Regions from separate parts of the Homo sapiens genome. Here region 2 is reported to be linked to region 1. The links are microRNA targets in miRTarBase. Many come from high-throughput screens and were not tested one by one. Region 1 holds a microRNA gene; the other region holds the end of a gene's coding sequence.
Evidence for each region. The annotated mature microRNA hsa-miR-641 reads AAAGACAUAGGAUAGAGUCACCUC and lies in region 1 at 1,130-1,153, shown strand. An mRNA with a match to its seed (bases 2 to 7 or 8) in the 3' UTR can be bound and repressed. Matches are read on the target gene's strand: a 7mer-m8 pairs with bases 2 to 8, a 7mer-A1 pairs with bases 2 to 7 and ends in A, and an 8mer does both.

Region 1 (3,251 bases):
GCTTGGGACAGTCAGATCCCCCATGGATCTGGTGTCTTATTGTGGTCTGTGGGCTGGTGCTGGGAGCAGCCAGCCCCAGAGGTCTGTGGCCAGTGTCCCTGCTCCCTAGGCCAGATCATGACCTTGGCTTGCCCTGTAGCCTTTGCTCTGGGTCTGGAGTTCCCAGAGGACTGGCTGCAGTCCCTGATTGACCCAGCAGACCTGGGCTGGTGATGTGGTCAGAGGGGGCAGATGGTTGCCCCTAGTCCGCAGCAGTGACTTCCAAGCTGACTGGCTTCCGTGGCTCGTGGTTCCTGGAGAGAAAGGTCCCACAGTCTGTGAGGCAGCGGCGACTCTGTAGAATCTTTCTCCACTAGGGGTTTGTTCCTCTGGTCCTCTCCTGCCAGCTTTTAGAGGGTTTGCCTGATGGGGCTAACAGTGGCAGTGAAAACAGTAATCATGAAATTGATGGCTGACAGTAACTGAGTGCATTCTGTGGGCCACACACTGTTTGGAATGCTTCATATAGATAAACTTGCTGAATACTTGAATTCTAGAGCGGTAGGCGCTGTTGTTATGCTCTCCCTTTTAGATGAGAAAACAGCATCTCAGAGAGGCAGATCATTTCCAGAGCTAGTGGATGCCCAGTGTTTATAGCATTCACCCCATGCCAGGCGTGTGACAGGGCTTTTGTACATGTGATCTCACTTAAGTCTCAAAACATACCTGTGGTTAGGCCTATTTTATGGAGAGCTACGAGCTAGTTAGAAGTGTGATACCATTTTACAGATGAGGAATCATTTCACTCACTGTGAAGTGCAAAGATTTCCCAGAGGTCTCATAGCTGAAGTGGGAGAGGTGTGATGTGAGCCCTTGGCCAACCTTGGCCTCAGATCGTCTTGTCAAGGAGAAACTGGAGGAGTGGCTTTTGTCTGTGAGCATATACTCTGCCCAGCCCTGTGCTTTGGGCTTTATATGGTATTTGTGTCCTTTTTTGCAGAGTCCGAAATTGAAGTTCAGAGGAAGAATTGCCTTCCACCGCATCTTATCAGACCCTATGGGTGCCAGGGTAGGATTTGAACCCAGGTCACTGAGCCCCTAGTGCCATGCATTCCTTGCTCACCAGGTTCCAGGCTGGGTGAAAGGAAGGAAAGACATAGGATAGAGTCACCTCTGTCCTCTGTCCTCTACCTATAGAGGTGACTGTCCTATGTCTTTCCTTCCTCTTACCCCTGAGCCTCAGGCTGCCCTGAGCATCTCTGCCTACAGCCAGTCCAGCATTTCTTGGTCCCTCCTCAGAGTGGAGGCAAGGCATCCTTTAACCCTGGGCAGGTGTGTGCTGGGAGAAGAAGACAGCAAGAGAGCCATGCAGGGGGTGACACAGCTACCAGGGACCTGCGTTAGCTAGCAGCAGGACGGTGAAGTCGGTTCTAGCTCTGCGACCTTGGACCACACTGTTCACTCCCATACAGTGGTCTCAGAAGGACGTCCACCTTGGGCTGTTGTGAGGATTAAATGAATTAATCCACGAGAAGCTCCTAGAATGGTGCCTGGTACTGTGTAAGTCTTGGTTGGCAGTCATGATTATGTTATGGAACGGAGGCATCCAGCCTCCCCCACCCCCTACTTTTGGTCCCCTCGAGCATTCCGGGATCCAGCTCCCCAGCCTGGCCCAGCTAGGATCCAGAACTTCAATGTTCTGGTTTCCAGCCTCTGTAAAGAGGTGTATGGAAGCGAGTGAGAGCACAGGGTTCAAATCCAGCCGTGCCACTCCATGGCTGTGTGACCTTGAGCAGGCTCCCCAACCCTTGTGAGCTCATTTCATCATCGGTGCCATGGGGATGATGATAATTCCCACCTGATAGGATTATTGTGAAGGCTGAGTGGATTAATTTGTGGGAAGCATTCATAACTGTTCTGGCATACAATAAGCCTACCGGAAATGTCTCCTCACTAAGAACAGTGCCCGACACATGGTGAGCTGTTGGTCTGTCTTAGCAATTGTAATTCTTAGTATTTCTGCCGGGACTTTGAAGGCCTTTGCCAGTTCACAGAACCGTGTCAGAGAGCACTAGGAGGAGATCAGGGCTGAAATTAGCATCTCAGTTTTACAGATGCAGAAACAGAGGTCGGGGGAGACATGCAATCAAGTCAGAACTGACAAGGGCAGCTCCCGGGCCCACTCCTCTTCCACGCAGTGGCTTTGCAGCCCTGAGCGCCTCCAAGGTAGACACACTGGAGTCTTTTCAGAGGTCAGGCTCTGTGCTTGTTTTTTTTTTTCTTTTGAGACAGGGCCTCCCTCTGTCACCCAGGCTGGAGTGCAGTGGTGTGATCACAGCTCACTGCAGGCTTGACCTCCTAGGCTTTAGTGATCCTTCCACCTCATCCTCTTGAGTAGCTGGGACTACAGGTGCATGCCACCATGCCTAGCTAATTTTTAAATTTTTTGTGGAAACGGGAGTCTCGCTATGTTGCTCAGGCTAGTCTTGAACTCCTGGGCTCAAGTGATCCTCCTGCCTCAGTCTCCTGAGTAGCTGGGACCGTAGGTGCATGCCACTGCCCCTGGTTCCCAGCCCACCACAGCTCACAGCTCTGGGAGTGGCAGGAAGGCTGGGCCTGGGCAGGGGGAGCAGCAGAAGTGCCTGCAGGGGTTGGCAGGGGCTGTGCTGCACTGGCCTGTGGGCCTGGGTGAGAGGTGAGGATGGATCCTAAGGGTATTGTGGAGCCGAGGAAAAGGTTTCACTCATCCGCCACCATTTACTGAACACCTCGTATGTGCCAGCGTTGCATCAGTACTGGGAATACAGCAGTGTACTTGCCAAAGTCCCTATCCTTGTGGGGCTAAGCAAGACCAACCCGAAACAGGTTAATAAGCAAGGAGCCGGTTAGAGGGGGAGGAGCTAGGCAGCGAATTCAAATCAGGTGACAGACTGGGCACTTCTTTAGATGCATGCGGCTGTGGGGAGGGCCTCTGAGCTGATCCCAGTTTGGCAAGGTGAGGCAGTCATGTGGGATGGGAGGAGAAGGAACAGCCCTCCAGGTGGAGGGAACCACAGTGCAAAGGTCTGAAGGGAGGACAGAGCTTGGTGAGGTGCAGGGACAAGCCTCACGGAGGCCTGTGTGGCTTGGCAGAGCGAGGGAGCAGGGAGGAGATGAGTCCTGGGGCTGCGGGGCAGGCAGGGCCCTTTCACTGGGAGCCTTGTGGACTGTCTGTGAAGGAGTTTGGAATTTCAGCAGGAACAGCCTGGTCAGATTCAGGGTGTTAGCAGGTG
Region 2 (3,125 bases), not on the chromosome of region 1:
TACATGTGTTTGTTACCCTTTTCTACCACTAGAACAGACGCTCCATGGTGGTATAGACTTATTTCCGCAAACCACCCCCCCCAACTTTTTTTACACAATGGTTAAATAACACACATATTTTTAATGCAATGCCTGATATCACAAAGCCTAAAATAACAATGTTTGGCACATTATAGCTGTTTAGTAAAAGGTTATTAAATGAATTGACTATATGAATGAATGCTTAGTAAATAGCTTTTCCATTTATCTGTAGTTGCTCTATAAATCAGTATTGATGTAATTGAGTGTTTTTCTTCCTCCACAGTACAATGGTCAGTTCCGTTCAAGGAAACACATATCCCAGCCAGGCGCCAGTATATAGTCCTCCTCCTGCCGCTACTGCTGCTGCTGCAACTGCCGATGTCACTCTGTACCAGAATGCAGGACCTAATATGCCCCAGGTGCCAAACTATAACTTAACATCATCAACTCTGCCTCAGCCCGGAGGCAGCCAACAGCCACCTCAGCCACAGCAACCATATTCTCAGAAGGCTCTGCTATAGGACCCGGTGTTCCTCTTGGTGGCAGATACCTGCTAAATGCCACTGACAATGTTATGAGATTCATTACTATCTTAAGATGTGTTTATCCTCAGCTTATAGGAATCTCTCCAGGTCAACAGGTTCAAATATTCAAGAAGGTAGAACTCTCCTCAATTTACACTGACTTTTTAGAGGTTCTTCCCCCCCCGCCCCTGCAGAGGAATGAAACTACTTACAACATTTAATTCCTTTCATAATATGAAAGAATTGATACAAGGCTATTTGTCTCGTAAACCTGGTCTGCAGAAAGTCAAACTTACAAAAACTGTTGTGACAAATGTTATGTACATATATTGATATGTAACTGCATTAGTGGCCATTTTGAATCACAGTGGTGATCGTGTGAATATATTTAACACTGTGTTAAATTAATTTACGTTGCTATTTTATTTTAATCATAAACAACTACCATGTTTCTTAATGTTTTGTGTAAATTTAAGGTAATTATACTATCCTTTTAAACTTCAAGAAAACAAAGTTGTTAGCGTATTTACATGAAGGCGCATTATGTTGTCGTGTGTTTCAGTTTCACATTAAACTGAACCTTTTACTAATTGTGAGCTAAAGAGATATATATATATATGTGTGTGTATATATATATATCTACATGTCTTTCTGTAGCCTCTGCATACTACTGGCTGTCATCACACCAGCGTACAGTAGCTAAATTTTTGGTGCAATTATAGCAAATGATAATGTTCCCTTTTGAACTTTTACATTTTGGCATGACATTTCAGAGTATTGTGGGACCATGAGACAAAATTAAGTACGATCACATTCTTTATTTCTCATTTTAAAGAAATGATGTTGGTTTACCTTTTCCTAGTTGAAGATAGTAATTAGGTTTCTAAGCTGTATACTGTGTTTATTGGTGGCAGTGACACCAAAGATAGAGGCAATGGATAGAAATTTTTAAACTGGAAAGAAAACCTGAATTACACTACATTTTCGAAGTCTCTTGTAATTATTTGGGATATCAACAAAATTTGATTCGTCTGTCTAATCCCTTGCTAGTATTTTAAATATGTCTTTAACACATTGTATCCTTTAATTCTTCATTAAAATGGAAATAAGTAGATGTTTCAAAGTAATCTACATTCCTGGCTTTGCTTAACGTTTATATAGGTATTGTTTTCTTTCACACTGGATTTTTGGGTTGCTCTTTCTGGCCTTTTAAAATTCTAATGGAATTATTTTGGCTTCTTACTTGGGAATATTTTCAAATGAATGCTTTTCTTTTAATTCATGCGAAAAATGTTTTCCACTGACATTGTAATCTTAAATATTTACGATTTCCCTGGTTGGGCTATACTATTATTTTAGCACTATTTAAACAACGGAAAAGTTGAGTCGAACATCATATTTAATGAATTGATGTAACAGGTTTCATACTATAAATGAAAATTTCATTTTTATTTTCTAAGACTGTTGTAATCAGGTAGCTTGTTTATTTTCTTTTTGAGAGAAGATTAAATCTTTAGCCAGTAATCTTAAGGGTGACTAATTTCACAGACTCAGATTTAAAGCACCGTAGTTTTAAATCTGAGCCTGTGAAATTAGTCACCTGTAAGATTACTTAAGGGTAACTTAAGTGTTTCGCTCAAGTGTTGTGTTCTGATTTCCTGTGTTTAAAATATGTTGCCCTGCCCTGAAGTCAAATTTCACATTTTAAATACTATAAGTTAGTTTTTGATAAATATCTGTCGGATTATAATCTTTTCCACTCCAATTTGAGTATTATGGTTTAACTGATATACTTTTCTGCAATTTTTCTTTGTCTTTTGATAAATTCCTGTTTACCAATGTTAAATGTATCATTTTCCCATTTTAATTTTGATATCTTTCATGCTGAAAATCAATGACATAGTCTCTACTATGATTTTTGCCCTATAAAAGTCAAGTAACAGTGAATAGAAAAAACTACCCTTATTACAACCCATATACATTTTTCTTTACCTTTTACATTACTAGCCTTATAAAGGTTTAAATGATGAGTACTTTAAAACTGTTACTGTGTTAGTTTATGCCTTCCCATTATTAAAAATGAAAATACCAGGGGGAAAAAATCCAATGAAAGTGAAGCACTGGCTTGTCTTTCAAATGACAAGACGAGGGTAGAAATAGGAGGGGGCCAGTTAGGATCATGAATGACTTTAAGTTCTGAAACCTGCAGGTCTTGCACTTTCAAGAAATCTTTCATTAATAGCTGTCCTTATTTTGAAGGAATAGAATAATTTATAAAATGAACTAGCTGTAACATAGGCTGGACGCAGTGGGTCACACCTGTAATCCCAGCACTTTGGGAGGCCGTGGCGGGCGGATCATTTGAGGTCAGGAGTTCGAGACCAGTCTGACCAACATGGTGAAACCCCGTCTTTACAAAACTACAAAAATTAGCTGGGCGTGGTGGCAGGCACCTGGTAATCCCAGCTACTCAGGAGGCTGAGGCGAGAGAATTGCTTGAACCTGGGAGACGGAGGTTGCAGTGAGACGAGATCACGCCACTGCATTCCAGCCTGGGAGACAGAGTGAGAAATAAATAAC

Region 2: miRTarBase lists STAM as a target of hsa-miR-641. Seed matches in the 3' UTR shown: 7mer-m8 at 1,189-1,195 and 7mer-m8 at 1,606-1,612.

What each region holds. Positions count from the first base shown.
Region 1 is chr19:40,280,505-40,283,755 of GRCh38, reverse strand. MIR641 (microRNA 641) reads left to right here and starts at 1,115; the gene lies at 1,115-1,213. The region is part of intron 1 of AKT2 (AKT serine/threonine kinase 2); the gene reads left to right. RefSeq lists enhancers at 3,008-3,127, 3,168-3,217.
Region 2 is chr10:17,714,239-17,717,363 of GRCh38, forward strand. It overlaps STAM (signal transducing adaptor molecule), which reads left to right. Exons shown (of 14, transcript NM_003473.4): 14 at 305-2,586. The coding sequence ends at 542. Among named protein-coding and RNA genes, the nearest start is that of TMEM236, 36 kb to the right of the region's middle.